Linked DNA regions of Homo sapiens: region 1 is linked to region 2. A link means that fine-mapping ties the variant in region 2 to the expression of a gene that starts in the linked region. Tissue or cell type: esophagus mucosa. Region 2 holds a variant in brackets; the other region holds the start of a gene. All regions are shown on one strand. Distances are from middle to middle.

Region 1 (9,068 bases), 200 kb after region 2:
GGGATTTTAGTGTCCCCATTTATAAAATGGAGGCAATTGTATCTGTTCTGCTCACCTCAGAAAGGCTTGCTTTTTGAGGATGAAATGCAATGGCAAATGCGGAAGTATTTTGAAATAAAGGCAGCAGGCATACAGGCGCATTATTATTATGCAGAAGAATTTTTTTCTCCATAACATAAAAGTTGTCTCTTGTTGCAGGTTGAGAGTAATAACTATATAATTAGACTTTGTGTCATATCAAGAGAGGCATCCCCTTTTTTTCATTAAACAGACATTTGTTCAGTTTCTACAGTGTGCAATGTTGTGCATTGCGAAGGATGCAGAATTGAATAAGCCATAATCCTCCCCTTCAAGGAATGTACGTTCTAGTATCAGGAAGATAAAACTTAGAAGATATAATTCAAAGTCAAAAGGAAAAAGGGATTCAGAGGAAGGAGTGGTTCATTTGGGTTGGAGAGTTGAGGAAAGGCTTTGTGGAGGAGAGAGCATTCGTCAGAGAGATGGGCAAGATTCTCTCCTTTATTTTAAGGGATCCTCCCACCTCAGCCTCCCAAGTAGCTAGGACTACAGGTCCCATGCCACCACACCTGGCTAGGTTTTAATTTTTTTTTTTTTTTTTTTTTTTGTGAGACGGAGTCTCGCTCTGTCGCCCAGGCTGGAGTGCAGTGGCGTGATCTCGGCTCACTGCAGGCTCTGCCCCACTGGTTCACGCCATTCTCTCGCCTCAGCCTCCCGAGTAGCTGGGACTACAAGTGCCCGCCACCAGGCCCGGCAAATGTTTTATATTTTTAATAGAGACAGGGTTTCACCGTGTTAGCCAGGATGGCCTCGATCTCCTGACCTCGTGATCTGCCCGCCTTGGCCTCCCAAAGTGCTGGGATTACAGGCGTGAGCCACCGCGCCCGGCCGGTTTTAAATTTTTTTGTAGAGGCAGGGTCTTGCTATGTTGCCCAGGCTGGTTTTGAACTCCTGGACTCAAGTGATCCTCCCACCTTGGCCTCCCAAAGTGCTGGGATTATAGGTGTGAGCCACTGTGACTGGCTGATGGGTAAGATAGAACAGGTGGTTTACTGAAGACACAGGACCTGCCTATAGCACAGTGAAGGTCATATGGAAGTCTTGAGGCCCAATGAGAATTCAGAAATGGGACCCTGGGGACCAGCCAGGCCCCAAGGAGGTGGCAGGAAAGGAAGGTAAGACCTGGCAAAGTAGCTGATTGTTTCCCTGAATGTGTGACTGGCTAAATCTTGGGACTGGGAAAGTTTTTTTCTGTGCTTTTCTGAGCTCAACTTCTGGGTGCCCACGCCTTGCTTTGAAAGGGTTTGGTCTGTGAACCTACACATCTCTCAGTAATGATTTAAGTTACTCAGAAAACTGGGAGCCCTGGAGTGAAAGGAAGAGACGAAAGGGAAAGAAATCCATGTAGCAGTCTTGCTCCGTTTGATCTGGCAGACAGCGGGCGATGATGGAAGAATGCTGGAGATGGAGGTGGAGGGTGGTCGGATTCTGCCATCCTGAGCCATGTCTGCTGTTTGGACTTGCAGACTTCAAACACGGCTGGGGGATTCCCGGAAGACAAAAGAATTCAGGGCCGGGACTTGGATCTCAGTCAAAAATAACTTACGTCTTCATCTCAGGAAGGCAAACAGTGGTAGCTCAGGGCTGGTTTCTCAGAAGATTAGAGCTACAGGTGGGGACAGGGTGCCACGAAGGTCAGTTTAGGTTTAAGCTGGCTGCAGAGAGAGAAGGGGCTCGGAGGGTGTGGGTCTGGCAGAGGGAGATGTCAGAATGAACCCCAAGTGAAAGAGGTTCTGGAGAAAAAGTCATCCCTGTTTGCCCCCCTTCTGGGCATTGCCATTGCTTTGAGCAATAATTACAGCCCTTCATGTTTCTTCCCTGGCTTCTCATTAGCTCAAGGTGTCCACAAACAAACTGCTCAGCCCCCTTTGCCTTCCTCTCCCCGCTTCCAGCAGCTACTCCTGGCTTTTCCATGGCAGCCAACTGTCCCAGTTCCCAGGACCAGAACATCGGGTCCTTAAAAAAACTCCTTCCTCTCTTGGAGGGCACATTTGAGAGACTCAGCCCTGGAAAGGCTCTTCTCTCTCTCCTCCCCCTTATCCCACTGGACTGTCATTAGAGGATGACCTCATTTTCCCCCAGGAGGCCAGGGCCCGGGTCTCATCCCCTTTGTACTATCAGTACCTCGGCCAGGGTCTGGCACATAATGGACACTCAGCACGTGTGAGCTGAATGGCACTGCTGAGCTGTCGCCAACTTAATCTTCCTAAAATGCTGCTCCAGTTAGAAGCCATCACCGCTTCTCTATCTCCCACTGGGCGAGGTCCAACCTCCTCAGACTGGCACTCGGGGACTCTGGCGACACAGTGCTCCTCGCCTGCCCGGCCATCCTCACTTTGTGCTCAGCCACTTCATGGTTCCCAACACAGTCAACAGCTTTCCTATCTCTGTGTCTTTGCCGCAGCAGTTCCCTCCACCTAGAAACCCTTCCACGTTCTCTACCACAAGCTTGCCCCTTTCAAGGCTCATCTCAACATCATGCTCCTGCCCTTCTAAACCGAGTTTGATCCACCCTTCCCCAGCCCTTCATCCTGCTCTGCGTTGACTTCAAGTGTCTTGTTAGGAACCTTAAAAGAGGCCATGGTGTAGCGCACTTGCAAAATGAAGAGCAAGGAAGAAGTGCCAATAGGCCCAGTTCCGTGTCACTTCTCATTAGCGCCAAAGGTTCTCCCAGGGAGGGGCCTCTGCATGGCACACCTCCAGGCATCGACGAGTGCCTGCCTGCTGCAGCTGGTCAGTGAAAGTGACACCATGCCTACTCCCTCCTCTGCCCCCAAAATGCCACAGAATATGCCAGTCCTTAGGCTGTCTCAGGTGAGAGTAGAACAAAAGGTGTCAGGGTGCCTAGCCACTCCTATCCCCTGGAGCTTTCTAGGCCTGGACCCCAGGCCCCATGTCCTACTGCCTGCTCGGGAGTGGGTTGCAGATTCGCCTGGAGCTGAGGGGCAGAGTGGTCTGACCAGCTGGGCGTAGGTGACATTGAGGACAACAGGTAAAGGGTGGCCTCAGGCTCATGGAGGATGATGGATGTAACAACTTGTCCTAACAGTCTCCAAGTCCAGACACCATCACCTCCCAGCAAGGGCCAAGGTGAGAGAAGCTGCCCCGTGAAGCAAGAATCCTGGTGAGAGATCAGGAATTCCTTCTTAGGAGACTTTTGGAAACATAGCCTGCCAAGGCGGGGTAAATGTTCCTAGGGACAGAAGGAGGAACAAGATAGCCTTCTGGATGTTTCCCATCTTCCCTCTCCCTTTTATTCTAACTGCTGCCGCCCTTGTGACCTCTTCCTTGGACAGCACCTCTCATGGCCCTCTGCTCAGGCCAACCTCCCTCCTGTCTAGACTCTACACTACAGCCAAAGGGATCTTTTTTGTTTGTTTTGAGACGGAGTCTCACTCTGTCGCCCAGGCTGGAGTGCAGTGGCAGATCTCGGCTCACTGCAAGCTCCGCTTCCTGTGGTCAAGTGATTCTCCTGCCTTAGCCTCCCGAGTAGCTGGGATTACAGGCGCCCACCACCACGCCCGGCTAATTTTTTGTATTTTTTTAGTAGAGACAGGGTTTCAACGTGTTAGCCAGGACGGTCTCGATCTCCTGACCTCGTGATCCGCCCGCCTTGGTCTCCCAAAGTGCTGGGATTACAGCCGTGAGCCACCGCGCCTGGCCAGGGATCTTTTAAATATTACTCTACTGCTCACAATCCTTCAATGGCTCCCTATTGCCCTTAGGTAAAGTCCAAGCTCTTTTCCCATGAAACTCACAGCCCCTCACAACCTTCCCGTCCAGGCTGGGCTCTTTAGATTGGTCATCGTGCTCCAGTTTCCAGCCATGCCAAACTGCTTGTCGTTTGCCTCCCATATGATGCTGCTCCACAAGCCTGGTCGTGCTGTTCCCTCTACCTGGAACACCTCCTTCACCTTTTCCATGTTGCCTAGTTCTGGAGGCTTATCCTTTGGGAAGCCTTCCTGGACCCACAGCGACCCCCTCCTTTGGAGTTCTACACCTTCTGGGCTTCCCTTGAATCCAGGACTTACCCTTGTGTTGAATGTGACTGTCACCCCCAATTATCCATTTCTGGAGGGCAGGGTCTGGTTCTTATCCACCTCTGTATTCTCAAAGCTCTGTCATTGGTACTTAGTAGGAGCTTAATACATGTTCAGGAACAGAACTGAGCCTGCTAAGCTCCCTTCCCCACGAAGGGATGACAGAGTTGGATATGTTGATAAGAGCTGTCCCTGGGCTGATGAAGAGGCAGCTCCCTGGGTAGCTGGTATCAGAACACTGTCCAGGGTGGCTGGGCATCCCAGCAGAGTGGCCAACCCTTTTCTGTGCCCTTCTCCTTCCAGTTCCCCTGGAACCAGACTTCCTGGCCCACTTCTCTAGTCCCAGAGATCTAAGTATAACAGAGCCAACACCCATACCGGTCATGCAAATGACAGCCTGGGATGCGGGAGGCAGCGACACAGACCCCAGGGCCCCAGCGGTCATTTGTCCTTCTGGGCTCCTCTTCACAAAGGAATCAGCCTCTCTTCTGTCCCCTGAAGGCTGTTTTCAAAATCACACCCCATGCAGACAGTTTTATTTACAAGGAAATCTTGGCAGGATCTTGACTTGTTAGTAGAGTAGGGATGGGGAGGAGGGTGGTGAGAAACAAAAATAGTTGAAATGATCACACTTTCTGAAACAGAGATGAAAATTGGTGTCTGTAGCAAACTCACCTAATTAGAATCAAGTGAATTCCCTTCTCGGTGTTTAAGGGGAGCAGTCATTGCTGGGTGATGGTCGCAGTTCGGATCCTGGGCACGGGGTTATGTCTTTGCTTTCTGAAGATGACTGCATTAGTTGCAGCTCTCACTAATGGAAAGGAGCCTGTTCCGTTTCCCAGAGGAAGGAAGAGGGCAAAGACTAGTGAGTGAGTGGGTGGTGGGAAGAGGAAAGCAAGAGGAGTGGAAGGGCACAGCCTTGGTGTGGGCTGGGGACTGACTGCGAGATGCCTCCTGGAGAAGCTCCTGAGCCTCTGGGGAGAGCTGGCCCCTGCCAGGCCGGCCACTAGCACCATTTACAGCCAGAGCCTCTGCTTCGGGAGATGGTCTCTCTTGGGGGCGCTTTCCTGCAGGGAAACAGCATCGATTGTTTTCTTTAAAAGATCCCCTACTCCGTTTTGGCTAACTTCCTTTCTGATTGCTTTAGTTTCTTTACCGTCCCTCTCCCCAGATGGGGCATTTCCCTGGGCTTACCTTTGTCCATGTGGTCAAATGAAGCCTGGGCATGGTCACTTAGCTCTGGGTGTAGGAAGGGCAAGATTTAGGCTTTGGGGCCCACGACCCCGCAATCTGACTTCTCCCATTTCTGGGCCTCCCGAGACCTCCCAGAATCTGAGACCGCAGTGAATAGGGCGTAAGGATAATGGGGCGGGAGGCAGGAATCCCGTCCTTACAACATCGCGCCCCCAATTCACTCCTAGTTAACCCTGACGTCGCCAACATAGTGTCTCCATCACATATCTGCCACCTCCAAGTGATGGTTAAGCCGATGGAAGAGCCAAGCCCGGGCCCGGAGTGCAGGCCGGTGGTGACCGGGCCGGGGACGGCGCAGTCCCCATCCCCGCCCCGGGCAGCGCCACCACTTCCTCGCCAGCCCCGCCGCAGCCCTCCCGCTCCCGGGCCGCGCCGCTCTGACCGACTGGGCCCGGGTGGCGGCGCCCGGGGTGGGGTGCGGGGCGGGGGCCGGCGTTCCCCGCGAGCAGCCCCGCCCCCGCCCGCGCGCCGCCCCCGAGGACTCCGCGGGGAGGAGGAGACTCGGGCGCAGAGCGGGGGCCGCGAGAAGCGGGAAGGGAGCGCGGGGAGCGGCGGGGCCGGGGCCGGCCCAAGGGCGCCCTCGCCTCGGAGCCGGGCGCGAGGGCCGGGGCGGAGGCGGAGGCCGGCGGGGCAGCTAGCGCAGTGAAGTTTGGCGGCGGAGGGGCCGGGCGTCCCGGGGTCGCGAGGAGGCGGCGGCGGCGCGGGGACCGGGGCCATGGGGGCGGGCGCGGGCTGCGGAGCGGGCGCGGAGGCGGCGCGGCGCGCACTGAGCCCCTGGAGCGGCGCGGCCGCCGCGGCGCAAAGTTAGCCCGGCGCCCCGGGACGAGCCCCGCAGCCGCCGCCGCCCCCGGACCCCGTCTCGGCCATGGGCGAGCACCCCAGCCCGGGCCCCGCGGTGGCCGCCTGCGCCGAGGCGGAGCGCATCGAGGAGCTGGAACCCGAGGCCGAGGAGCGGCTGCCCGCGGCGCCGGAGGACGTGAGTGCCCCCTCCCCGCCCGGCAAACTTTCTAGGGGGCGCCGGGGGGAAAAGCCGCCCCTGTCTCGCCCCACGCCGGGCAACTTGGAGGTTTCAGGGTGACGCGGGAGCGCCCCGGATTGGCCGGGTCCCCGCGGGCAGGAGGGGGCGGAGGGACCGGTCTCCCCGAAACGCGCGCGCACCGCTTCCCCCGCTCTGGTTCCCGCGGCTTCCCTGCGGGACACAGCACCGCCACTGCGCCGCGGACCTGTCACCGCCGGAGCCCCCTCCCCGCCGCTGGTGCAGTGCCCGGGACACGGCGTTTTCCCGCAGAGGCGGCCGCGTCACGGCGGTGACTCCCCCTCCCCTCACGCCCGCGACCTGCGAGCTCCCGGAGCTGGGGAAGGAGCGGACGCCGCAGAGTCCCCGTCCCTGGCCATGCAAGCCGGCCTGGCGACCCCTTCCTCCGCTCCCGGATTAGCTCCCGCCCGGCACCTGCCTTGCCGCGACACTGATTGAAATTCAAGCCGGCCCCCGCCTCTGACCCCGGCCGGAGCAGGGAGGCAAAGAGTGCTGGGAGCGGCTTTGCTCCTAGAAGGAGGCCCGGGAGTCCAAGACCGTGGCGGTGCCAGGGGACGGTCCCCTGGGCGAGGAGAGGGAGGGGCTGCCCCGAGGGCTTCCCCGCCGTCTGCTGCTCGGGTCTCCATCCCTCCGGTCCTGCGGGCCGGCCCTGCGAAGCCCTGGGAACTGGAGTTTCTTGGGTTAACCTCCCGGGGCTAACCTACACATAGGGGTGAAAAACCGGGCAGACACCCTGCCCTGCCCACTCCTCCCTCAGGGTGGGGAGATGGAAGTGAAACCAGGCCCCCAACCCACACAACGAAAGCGGGAAAGTCTGAATGGGGTTGGGGGGTAGTTTACGATCTTCTCTCTTTGGCGTCTGCGGTTAAATCTATCACTTCCTTCTGGCCCTAAACCCCTGGCAGAATCTGATGTAGTCACCACTTAGACTCAGCCTTGGAAGAGAATGGGTGGGCTTCACCGCATTCGGCATTCACCACCCCCCCTTCCCCGCAAAAAAACAAAAAACGAACAAACAAACAAAAAACTGCAGGCAAAATGTTAGTGTTTATGCAGAGGTGAGTTCTCCTGGGGGGGGAGGGGGGGGCTCTAGCTCCCAGCAGGTGAGACTCATTGCGCCGGGGTCTGATGGAATTGCACCTGGCCATGCTCTCCCAGGCCTGGGAGTAGCTGTGGACATAAGCTTTAGGCAGCAGAAATTATTAGAGGCGCTTGGACATATTTGGACGCCTTTATTTAGTAATTGTTGAGAATCACTTGTTCTGCCAGTTCCAGAACCAGCAACACCCACCTTGCCGCCCCCGCCCCCACCCCATCCCTTACTGTGAGTTTCCTCCCTCTGCTCAGTGTGGACTCATTGGGGAGCTCCTCCCAGACTTCCCCTGCTCTCCTGTGGCCAGTCCCTGAGCCTGGTCATGACTCCTGGGCAGCCGCTGGGAGGCTATGTCAGAAACATCCGAGGACTACAGAGACCTTGGTGATAAGTGTGTCTTTCTTTCTCTCCTCTTCTTCCTCTCCTGCATGGCCTCCCTCTCTGCCAGCACTGGAAAGTCCTGTTTGATCAGGTATGTGAGCAGTTAACCCCCCATTTCCTTCCAGCCCTCCCTGAAATCGGTCTCAGTCTCCCTGCTTGCGTGGGCTTCCCTAGCTCCGCGCTCCTGAGATGGTGACGTGGGGTGGGGGTGTGGCTTTGTGCATCTCTAGGGCTGAACGACACTGCTCTCCAGGTATCAGGAGGAAGAGATGGGCTCCCCTGAGAGGATCTCCCTCCTGCCTCCTCCCTACTCTGCTGCACCAGAGCCGGGTTTACACCATGTAGAAATTGGACGTTATATATTGAATGCCTGGGAAATCCTCCATATGCCAGGGGATTGCAGTAGGGGGCTGGAGAGGTGGGGGAAGGGCTTGGGCTGACAATCCCTCTCCGTTTCTACCTCCACTATGGAGGGTCCATGGCCACCGCTGAAGTCAAATCTCTGCCATCCTTGGGGGCTGACTCACAGTATGGACTCTTTTGAAGTCTAATTCAATGTCTTTAATTCTGTCATAGGGATGAGGGAGTGCTGGGAGGTTACAGAGGGGAAATTGTGTGTGATTCTTCGCAATGCCTGGAGTCCAGGTGTAGGGCATGGAGTTGGGGGTGCCAAGTATTGGCTTTTGAACCTGGAGATGGACATTTGACCTTCAGCAAGGAAATGGTTCTCCTCTTAGCATTCGTGGTGGGTGCTGTTATGTGCTTCCTTCTCCCTCTTTGCCCCATGTTGGAGGATAGTTGAGTGCTATAGTCCTGGGGTGAGAATGATTGTGCCATGAAGTTTGTGCAACTTTAAGAAATTGGTGTGAGTGGGCCAGAGGGAATGTGTTGGGTAGGAGAAGGAGATAAAGCTGAAAAATTAGCTTGAACCAGGACTTCGTTGTAGGCAGGGGAAGCCTTAGAAAGTTTTTTAGCAGGGTTGTTATGTGATCCAAGCCAGGCTTGGGAAAGCTCCAGTGTCTTAGGGGATAAGGAGTGAATGGGCTACGGGGATGAGGGAAGCTAGGCAGGAGCTGCAGCACTGAACAGAGGCAAGAAGGTGACAGTGAGGATGGACGGGAAGAGGGACATGGTGATGGAAGAATTGGAAGATCTTAATAGACCGTAGGTGAGGGGAACCACATAT
Region 2 (10,745 bases):
GGAAAGGAAGGGGAAAGGGATTTCACTGACAGCTGGAGCCTTAGTCCTCGGGCCAAATGAAGGACCTTCCCAGAACAGAGTGACCCAGAAGGAAGCTGTGGCCCAACCACCAAGATGGGTAACCCCGACAGGCGCAACCTGCCCTCTTGTCAATCAAGGCTGGACCAGGTGGTGTGGGGAAGGGGTGGAGGACTAAGAGAGGGGGCAAAGAGGAGGGTAGGAAGGTCCTGGCCTAAACGACCCAGTTAGTTTCGCCATCACCCCCTACCCCCATCCTGTATCCCAGGGAAGTATAGTGCAGCTGGGTTCTTGGTTGCCATGGCGACTGACAAAAAAAAAAAGACTTGAGGGGAGGAAAACACCCCGGGGCATGAAGAAGCAATTTGCTCTCAGGTCTGGGAGTCAGCACCGGAATCAGAATGTCCTAAGGAGGAAAGAAAACTGAGCGAGCCGGGCTTGGGTAGGTGGCAAACCTTCCCAAGGCCCCCTGCCAGCCATCCTAAGAGAGAGAGGGTAGGGGCGACCCCAGCTCTGTGTGGGAGGCGCCAACTCTAAGCCCCCACCCCCGAGGCTGCCCCTCCCACCCGAAGCGTTTAGCACCCAGGGTCTGGGGTGGGGGGCGAGGCGGGGGCGGGGCTTCCCAACGGATTGCTTTTTTTTTTTTTTTTTTTTTAATTTCCAGTTCCGCCTTGGGACGAGTCCCTGGCTGGGGGAACCGCATCAGGCCTGACACCCATCCCAGTCCCCCCTAAACCCAGAACGAGATCCAACCTCACTCCCCAGCCCCTTCCCGACCTCGCCGCTCAGGCTGTGATGGGAAGGTCCCTGGGAGTGGGGAGGAGGGCAAATTTAAACCCGGAGGGGATCCTGTAGCCCAGTTCCCTAAACCTCCAGGAAAGCGGAGAAAGTCACATTGTGGTGGCAGCTGCGGGTTTTTTTTTTTTTTAATCTGTTAATAAAACGCAAGTGAATCAAATCCGCCCTAAGGGAAGGTGGGGGGGCGCGGCGAGGCAGAGGCCATGGTGTTTGCAGAAGTTGGAAATTTAATAAGAAGGAAAAATAAAAATAGCCACTGTGCTGGAGAGAGAGAGAGAGAGAGAGAGAGAGAGAGAGAGAGAGAGAGAGAGAGAGAGAGAGTTGGGAGAAGCAGGCAAGTGTGGGACTCCTGGCTGGGTGGAAACGTGCAGAGGGGGCTGGGGAAGGCGAGGGCACCGCACCACTAGTCCGGAGGAGCAAGGGAGACACTGCTGGGGATACCAGGAGGGGAGTCTTTGGGGTGTCACCAGAACAGTCCAGTTCCTTGGCAGATTTTTCACCAGCAATGAGCTGGGCACAGAGGTTGGGGTTTGGCCCTCTAAACACCTGGGTGTAGAGGTCCAGCCTCTGGTTACTTGGTCTTCACAGCGCCCCCCACCTTCTGAGCTACTCAAGAGATGGGGGACAGTAGCAGTACTGCCAAGAACAGTTGTGCAAGTTGCGCACTGCACAAGCATGCCAGACAGAGGCTAGAGCAGAAGCTAACATCATCTGTTCCCCTCACCACACATTGCATCTGCCCAGAGGAAGAGGTACCTTTTATTTTATTTTATTTTATTTTATTTATTTTATTTTTTGAGATGGAGTCTCACTGTTATTGCCTGGGCTGGAGTGCAATGGCACGATCTCAGCTCACTGAAACCTCTGCCTCCCAGGTTCCAGAAATTCTCCTGCCTCAGCCTCCCCAGTAGCTGAGATTACAGGCACCCGCCACCACGCCCAGCTAATTTTTGTATTTTTAATAGAGACGAGGTTTCACCATGTTGGCCAGGCTGGTCTCGAACTCCTGACCTCAGGTGAGCTGCCCACCTCAGCCTCCCAAAGTGTTGGGATTACAGGCATGAGCCACGGCACCCAGCAAGGAAGGGGTACCTTTTAAAGATCTACACAAGGCCGGGCACCATGGCTCATGCCTGTAATCCCAGCACTTTGGGAGGCCAAGACGGAAGGATCGCCCAGGACCTGAAGACCAGCCTAAGCAGCATAGGGAGACCACCATCTCTACAATAAATAAATAATGACAAAATAAACATCCTGGCCGGGCGTTGTGGCTCACGCCTGTAATCCCACTGCTTTGAGAGGCCTAGGCAGGCAGATTGCTTGAGCTCAGGAGTTCAAGACCAGCTTGGGCAACATGGTGAATCCCTGTCTCTATGAAAAATACAAAAATTACCCAGGCATGGTGGCGCACAACTGTGGTCCCAGCTACTCAGGGGGCTGAGGTGGGAGGATAGCTGGAGTGGAGGCTGCAGTGAGCTGTGATCACGCCACTGCACACCAGCCTGTGTGACAGAGTGAGATCCAGCCTCAAAAAAAAAAGAAAAGTCCACACAAAGTTGACAGTGAACCAGCTGCATCTCTGAACACATCCAGTGATACCCCCTCCACCCCCCTCCAGGAAACCCAAGATTGCTGACAGGCCCAGCTACAGCAGCTTTGAGCTGGCTGCAGCCTGTGGGGTCCTCTGGGAGCAGCTGAATGGAATTTGTTCATGCTTTCACTCAACAAGTATTTACTGGGTGTTTATTTCATGCCAGGTGCCATGCTGGGCAGTGAATGAATGAACCTTGCTCTGGGGTTAACACTCCAGTGGGATGAACAGGCAAACCCCACAAGCACTGCATACGGTATGCAAAATGGGGTGCATGCTATGGAGGGACATACAGCTGGGAGGGGTGGGGGCGGGCAGGGGCCCTGGGTGCAATTTTTACAAAGTGACCTCACTGAGGAGGTGACATTGCAGCAAACCCAGAAGCAGGCAAGGAGGAGTCACGTGGCTGGCTGAGGGAACAGCATTTTAGGCAGGGGGAACAGCCTGTGCAAAGCACTGAGACCTTGTTTTGTGAATTGAGCGCCTTGAAATATGGGTTGCTTGGCCCTAGTTAAGGTTCTGAAAGAGCCTTTAATTTTTTTTCCCCTAGACCTGGGTGTGGCGGCTCATGCCTGTGATCCTAACTACTCAAGAGGCTGAGGTGGGAGGATCACTTAAGTCCAGAAGGTTGAGGCTGCAATGAGCCATGATCATACCACACGGCACTTCAGCCTGGGTGACAGAGCAAGACTTTGTCTCAAAAACAAAAAACAAAAAAATCCAATTCCGGCCAGGCGCAGTGGCTCATGCCTGTAATCCTAGCACTTTGGGAGGCCGAGGCAGCTGGATCACAAGGTCAGGAGTTCGAGACCAGCCTGGCCAAGATGGTGAAACCCCGTCTCTACTAAAAATAAAAAAAAATTAGCTGGGTGTGGTGGCATGTGCCTGTAGTCCCAGCTACTCAGGAGGCTGAGGCAGGAGAATTCCTTGAACCTGGGAGGCGGAGGTTGCAGTGAGCCGAGATCGTGCACTGCACTCTAGCCTGGGCGACAGAGCAAGACTCCATCTCAAAAAAAAAAAAAAAAAATCCAATTCCAACCTATACAAGGCAGCAGCTGTGAGGTGACACAAGTATGAACCCCATTAAGTCCCCCCAAAAGCCAAGAATCTTGGATTTCCTTCACAAGTGAATGACCCCCCCAATCTTAAAGGAAAATCATTCTAGCAGCAAATCCTAGACAGGAGTTACTATCAGCCAGATATTGCCATCTGCCTTAACTGGTTTAATCCTGACAGTGAACCCCAGTGATGTAGAAAATGTTACCACCATTTTTTTTTTTTTAATACAGAGTCTCGCTCTGTCCCCCAGGCTGGAGTGTGGTAGTACAATCTCGGTTCACTGCAACTTCTGACTCCTGGGTTCAGGTGATTCTCCTGCTTCAGCCTTCCAAGTAGCTGGCATTACAGGGGCACGCCACCACACCTGGCTAATTTTTATATTTTTAGTAGAGATGGAGTTTTGCCATGTTGGCCAGGCTGGTCTCGAAGTCCTGACCTCAGGTGATCTGCCCGCCTCAGCCTCCCAAAGTGCTGGGATTACAGGCGTGAGCCACCGTGCCCGGCTGTTATCACCATTTTACAGGTGGAGAAACCAAGACACAGAGCAATGCAGTGGCTCCCATGTGTGGATAAGAAGTAGCTTGTAGATTTGAACCCAGGACACCTTTCTGTGCATTGAGCCAGGCCGATCTGCACCCAGGCACCTGCCCAGGTGGATGCAGGGCCTGTGAGATTCTTCCAAGGCCTCCCATTTTGATGGGGTCCCCAGGCCTCCAGGCCTGCACTGGAGCTGGTCTGCTTCCAGGTGGAGCCAACGGAGGGTCCTGGTGCGGGGGAGTCGGCGTTGGCGGGTGATTGATGGTTTAATATCTCGCGCTGCGACCTGGGCCCCTCCTCTCCCACGCCTCTGTGGGTGGCCCCCAGTGAGAGGCGGAGATGGGATAATTCGGTTACCAAAAAGAGAATGAAAATTCCAGAGAGAGAAAGAGACAGAGAAAGAAGTGCAGACCAGGGAGTGCGCTGGGAGCTGATTTGGCAGGGCTGGGCTTGGATGGGAGGGAGGAGGCCGACTCTCAAATCCGGAATCCCTCTGGGGGCCTGGGGACTCATAGGTCCCAGCCGTCTTCAACTCCCATCTGACTTCCTGTCTTGAGAACAGAGACAGCAGATGTGACAAGTGAGAGGTCACAGGCAGGGGCAAGGCCTCAGAGGAGAGGGAAGCATGTGGCCTCCGCCTGGGACAACTGCTAGCAGGTGAGGCCAAGGGGAGGTAGGGACTAGTGGAGTTGGGGTGGAGGGAATGGGAGACTCCAAGTTCCCAGCTCAGAGGCTTCTGGTCATCCTTGACTGGAGTCCTCTCTCTCTTTTTTTTTTTAGATGGAGTCTTACTCTGTCGCCCAGGCTAGAGTGCAATGGCATAGTCTTGGCTCACTGCAACCTCCGCCTCCCGGGTTCGAGCAAGTCTGCTGTCTCAGCCTCCCGAGTAGCTGGGACTAGAGGCGTGCAGCACCACGCCTGGCTATTTTTTGTATTTTTGGTACAGACGGGGTTTCACTGTGTTGGCCAGGCTGGTCTCGAACTCCTGACCTCAAGTGATTCTCCCACCTTGGCCTCCCAAAGTGCTGGGATTACAGGCGTGAGCCACCGCGCCCCGCTGGAGTTCTCTCTTTTTTTCTCTTTCCATCCACGTTCAAACCTCGGACTTCATTTCTTCCCCACCTCCCCGGCCCTCACCTGGTCCAGCCCAGCATCCCTCACCTGGACTGTGCAGTTCCCTCTACCCTTGCTCAGGTCTCCAGCCTGGCCCTGAAGCCTGTTCCCTCCGCAGCCTCCAGAGGGCGCGAGCGAACACCTGATCAGGCCACGCCCCCTCC[T/A]CCCGCTCAGAACCCGGAAGGCTCCCAACTTGTGTTAATTTCCCATGGTTGCCGTCACAAGCTAGCGTTTTTTTAACGACGCAAATTATCCTACAGCTCTAGAGGTCAGAGATGTGGTTCGGGTCTCACCTGCCTAAGACCAAGATGTCAGCAGGCTGCAGTCCTTTCTTGGAGGTTTTAGGGGACGATCTATTTCTTGCTCATTTAGGGGTGCAAGATTCAGTTCCTCGGGATTGTAGAACTGAGGCCCCTGTTTTCTTGCTGGTTGTCTGTTCCCCGTTTCTAGAAGTTGCCTGCATTCCTTGGCTCGTGGGCCCTCCCTCCATTTTCAAAGCCAGCAATGACGAGTCAAGTCCTTCTCATATGACAGCCTTCAACTCCCCTCTGCCGCCCCCTTGCACTTTAAGGACTTGTGTGATTAGATGATCCAAGGTCATTTCCCTGTCTGAAGGTCCTTAATTACCTAATCAGCAAAGTCCCTTTTGTTGCATGAGGTAGCAATTCACTAACCTTGCTTCTCAGGGCCTGGCTGTGTCCAAAGGACTCTTTCTCCTTTAGACACTTTTAAGTGTTTCACCTGTCCTCTGCCTCTCCCTGGGCACCTGCTCCCTGCTCAGCCTGCCTCTCCCGCAATTCAAGCCAGTCATATGCTTGACACTCCTCCAGGAAGCCTCCCTGAAGTACCCATATTTATCAACCCGCTGGAGCAGTTACCAGCCCCTTTCTCCTATCCTCCCCAGGCCACGAGATCTTGAAAGTTTAGGATGAGGAAGTAGACATCTTGGGAAGGAGGGCATTATTCTCCTTACCAACTGCCTCACTCAGAGCAAAACTCCAGTCCTCACGGAGGCCAGAAAACCCAGCTTTCTCCAAGCAGATGGGCCTCCTTACTGTTCTCCAAACTCACCAAAGACATCCTGCCTCAGGGCCTTTGCACAGGCTGTTCCCTCTGCCTGAGTCATCCTCCCCCAGATATCCACATGGCTCCTCCCTCACCTCCTCCAGGTCTCCCTTCACTTGTGCCCCTCCCCAGGGAAGCCTTCTCTGATGCACACACACCCAATTTACAACATCCACAGACTCTTATTGCTGCTTTTTTTTTTTTTTTTTGAGACAGGGTCTCGCTGTGTTGCTCAGGCTGGAGTGCAGTGGTGTGCTCTCAGCTCACTGCAACCTCCACCTCCGAGTTCAAGTGATTCTCCTGCCTCAGTCTACTCAGTAGCTGGGATTACAGGCATGCTCCATGACACCTGGCTAATTTTTGTATTTTTAGTAGAGACGGGGTTTTGCCATGCTGACCAGGCTGGTTTTGAACTCCTAGCCTCAAGTGATCCGCCCGCCTCGGCCTACCAAAGTGCTGGGATTACAGGCCTGAGGCTGCTGTATTTTCTCCATTGCACTGGCTACTTTTGGCTACACCACAGAATATTCACTCCTTGTTCATCTTGTCATCGCCCAGGTCTCCCACTGGAAAGTCAGCTCCAAAAGGGAAGTTCCTCCACACTGTTCTCTCCTGGCTCTGTATGCTGCCCCCTTCCCTGGCCCTTGGCATACAGCAGGTGCTCAATAAGTGTTAGGGCTGGGCGCAGTGGCTCACGCCTGTAACTACCAGCACTTTGAGAGGCCGAGCGGACAGATTTGAGCCCAGGAGTTCAAGACCAGCCTGGCCAACATGGCAAAACCCCGTCTTTACTAAAAATACAAAAATTATCCAGGTGTGGTGATGCATGCCTGTAATCCCAACTACTCGAGAGGCTGAGAAATGAGAATTGCTTAAACCTGGGAGGCAGAGGCTGCAGTGAGCAGTGATCATGCCACTGCACTCCAGCATGGGCATCAGAGCGAGACTGTGTTTCAAAAAATAATAATAAGTGTTTGTTGAGTGAATGGATGGCAGGCAGGCAGGGCCCCAGCCCAGAGGAGGATGGGGACCCAGTGGAAGGTGGGAGCGGCAGGTGGAGAGGGATTGGTGTGGAGATGTTAGAGAAAAAGACCTTCTAGAACAATCCTGGGGGTCAGGTGGTCCCTGTGATGAAATGAACCAGCATTGTGTGAATTCAGTCAAGGGCTGATCTCTCATGATCTCTATAACGTGCTTTTCACAGGGAAACGTGTCCCCCCTGCCCCACAATCCCCTTGATAAAATCTTAGCTTTATGACTTTGTTCTCTGTTCATCTCAGATAACAGATGTTCCTGGAGTTGCCTTAGTCACAGGGCAGCTTGGCTTCAATTCAAAACAAGGAATGTCCAGACCCAGGCTGGGGCCTTGATTTAGACTTCAATCCTATTTCCTTCTGCCTCTCCTCCATCCCCACCAGCATCATGTTCTGGGGGTCTGGGTAGTGCAGGGGCCCCTTCCTTCTTGCTTTCCTCTCCTTTCCTTTCACGGCCAGGGCTGCAGCTCCAGGAGGGAATATAGTGTGTCAAATGGTGGCCCCCAAAAAGGATGTGTCCACATTCTGGCCCCTGCAACCTGTGAACGTGATGTTATTATATTCACTTTTTTTTTTTTTTTTGAGATGAAGTCTTGCTCTTGTCTCCCAACTGGAGTGCAATGGCGCAATCAAGGCTCGCTGCAACCTCCGCCTCCCAGGTTCAAGTGATTCTCCTGCCTCAGCCTCCTGAGTAGCTGGGATTACAGGCGCCTGCCACCACGTCCCCTAATTTTTGTGTTTTTAGGAGAGACGGGCTTTCCCCATGTTGGCCAGGCTGGTCTCAAACTCCTGATCTCAGATGATCCGCCTGCCTCGGCCTCCCAAAGTGCTGGGATTACAGGCATGAGCCACCACGCCTGGCCAACTTATTTTTTTTTTTTAAAGACATGGTCTTGCTCTGTCACTCAGCGTGGCTAGAGAGCAATGGCATGATTTCGGCTCACTGCAGCCTGGACCTCCCAGGCTCAAGTGATCTTCTCACCTCAGCCTTCCAAGTAGCTGGGACCACAGGCATGCAACACCATGCCTGGCTAATTTTTGTATTTTTTGCAGAGAGAGATTCTTGCTATGTTTCCCGGGCTGGTCTCAAAGTCCTGGCCTCGAGAGAGCCTCCCACCTCGGACTCCCAAAGTGCTGGGATTACAGGCGCGAGCCACTGCGCCTGGCCTGAATGTGATCTTAGGTGGATAAACTGTAACTGTCATAGGCCCATTGTTTGAGGCACTGGGCAAGTCAACATGCTGAGATACCAGTTTGCAGCAGAGAAGGAGGTTTAATCATAGGGCCACAGATCGAGGAGATGGGAGCAAATCTAAAATCCATCTCCTGGGTGGGTGTGGTGGCTCACACCTGTAATCCCAGCACTTTAGGAGGCTGAGGTGGGCAGATCACTTGAGGCCAGGAGTTTGAGACCAGCCTGGCCAACATGGCAAAACCCTGTCTCTACTAAAAATACAAAAATTAGCCGGGCGTGGTGGTGCATGCCTGTAGTCCCAGCTACTTGGGAGGCTGAGGTGGGAGAATCAGTTGAACCTGGGAGATGAAGGTGGTAGTGAGCCAAGATCGCACCTCTGCACTCCAGCCTGGGTGACAGAGTGAGACTCTCTCAGAAAACAAACAAACAAAAATTTATAAATAAAAATGAAATAAAATTTAAAAATTCATCTCCCCGAGGAATTTGGGGCTGGGGTTTTTAAGGGGTATGGAGTGGGCCCAAGTGTGGAGATCCTTTGATTGGTCAAAGAGTGCAAGGTGAAGTCTTGGGACAGAGGATTGGGCGGGAGTTGAGGGACAAGGGGTGGGTGAAGAAGCTGTATTCTCATGCTGATCCCATTCCTATATGCGGGGTCTTCTTCAGACTGGTTGCTGGAATTCAAGATCTGCAAAAACATCTGAAGTGATCCTTAAGCAAAAGCCATATGATCCTGACTGGGCGCAGTGGCTCACGCCTGTAACACCAGCACTTGGAGGCCGAGGCGGGTGGATCACTTGAGGTCAGGAGTTCAAGATCAGCCTGGCCAACATGGTAAAACCCCTTCTTTACTAAAAATGCAAAAATTAGCCAGGCGTGGTGGTGCACGCCTGTAATCCCGGCTACTCTGGAGGCTGAGGCAGGAGAATCGCTGGAACCCGGGAGGCAGCGGTTACAGTGAGCTGAGATCACATCAATGCACTCCAGCCTGGGTGACAGAGCAAGACTCCATCTCAAAAAAAAAAAAAAAAAAAAAAAAAAAAAAAAAAAAAAAAAAGCCATATGCTCCTAATGTCAGAGATCCTGTCTGTAGAAACAATGGGATGTATTTGTGTTTTGTTTTGTTTTGAGACAGAATTTCGCTCCTGATGCCCAGGCTGGAGTGCAATGGCGCGATCTCGGCTCACTGCAACCTCTGCCTCCTGGGATCAAGCGATTCTCCTGCCTCAGCCTCCCCAGTAGCTGGGCTTACAGGCATGCACCACCATGCCTGGCTAATTTTTGTATCTTTGGTAGAGATGGGGTTTCTCCATGTTGGTCAGGCTGGTCTCGAACTCCCAACCTCAGGTGATCCACCCGCCTTGGCCTCCCAAAGTGCTGGGATTACAGGCGTGAGCCACTGCGCCCGGTGAAACAATGGGGTGTAAAAGTGCTACCTGACTTTTAGCAGCAAGGAAGGGGGCCCTAGTGCAGCCCGATTCATGGTTCATTGTAACTGTATTTCTGTCTGGAATCTAGCATGCAATCCTTGTCAACTCTGTAGGAGGGATTTTGAAAGGGTCATTGCAGATATTAGAATTCTCAAGATGAGATCATCCTGGAAAACATGGTAGTCCTAAATCCACAGACGACTCTCCTTAGGAGAGACACATAGAGGAGACACAGTAGAGAAGGACCTGTGAAGACGGAAGCAGAGGTTGGAAGGCTGTGGTTGCCACCGAGGAACGCCTGGAGCCCTCACAAGCTGGAAGGGGCCAGGAGGGATTCTTCCCTAGATCCTCTGTGGGGAGCGTGGCCCTGCAGATGCTTTGATTTCAGACTTCTGGCCTGTAGAACTGTGAGAAAATAGGTTTCTGTTGTTTTAAGTGACTCAGTTTGTGGTACTGTTATAGCGGCCACAGGAAGGAAACAAATCCGGGGGTCAGATGGTTCTCATTGCACTGGGTCTGCTGTCAGCCAACCTTGCCTCTCAGGGCCTAGTGGTGTTCAGAATGAAATCTTTCACTTTCTTTTTTTTTTTTTTTGAGACAAGGTCTCACTCTGTCACCCAGGCTGGAATGATGTAGTGGGGCAATCTTGGCTCACTGCAACTTCTGCCTCCCAAGTTCCAGCGATTCTCCTGTCTCAGGCCAAGTCAGGTGGATCACTTGAGGTCAGGAGTTCAAGACCAGCCTCACCAGTGAAACCTCATCTCTACTAAAAAAAAAAAAAAAAATACAAAAATTAGCCGGGCGTGGTGGTGTCCACCTGTAGTCCCAGCTACTCGGAGGCTGAGGTGGGAGAATCACTTGAACCCAGGATGTAGAGGTTGCAGTGAGCTGAGATTGTGCCACTGCAC

Which allele goes with the higher level. Positions count from the first base shown, and alleles are read on the strand shown. Sizes are in standard deviations (SD) of each study's normalised expression.
For the expression in esophagus mucosa of the gene that starts at base 5,880 in region 1, T is the low allele of the variant in region 2 and A is the other (moderate effect, 0.69 SD a copy in GTEx).

Evidence for each region. PIP is the estimated chance that this variant, and not a neighbour inherited with it, causes the effect. A credible set is the group of variants that fine-mapping cannot tell apart.
Region 1: RHBDL3 starts here. The variant in region 2 is the best candidate, but not a certain one, in a credible set for the expression of RHBDL3 in esophagus mucosa (GTEx, PIP 0.73).

The regions. Positions count from the first base shown.
Region 1 is chr17:32,259,953-32,269,020 of GRCh38, forward strand. RHBDL3 (rhomboid like 3) reads left to right here and starts at 5,880. Exons shown (of 9, transcript NM_138328.3): 1 at 5,880-6,348; 2 at 7,950-7,973. The coding sequence starts at 6,238. It overlaps LOC105371731 (a long non-coding RNA gene), which reads right to left and starts at 5,499. Exons shown (of 3, transcript XR_934665.2): 1 at 5,313-5,499; 2 at 4,794-4,944.
Region 2 is chr17:32,061,826-32,072,570 of GRCh38, forward strand. No RefSeq gene overlaps it. Among named protein-coding and RNA genes, the nearest start is that of VILMIR, 16 kb to the right of the region's middle. The variant T/A (reference allele first, on the strand shown) is at 5,281.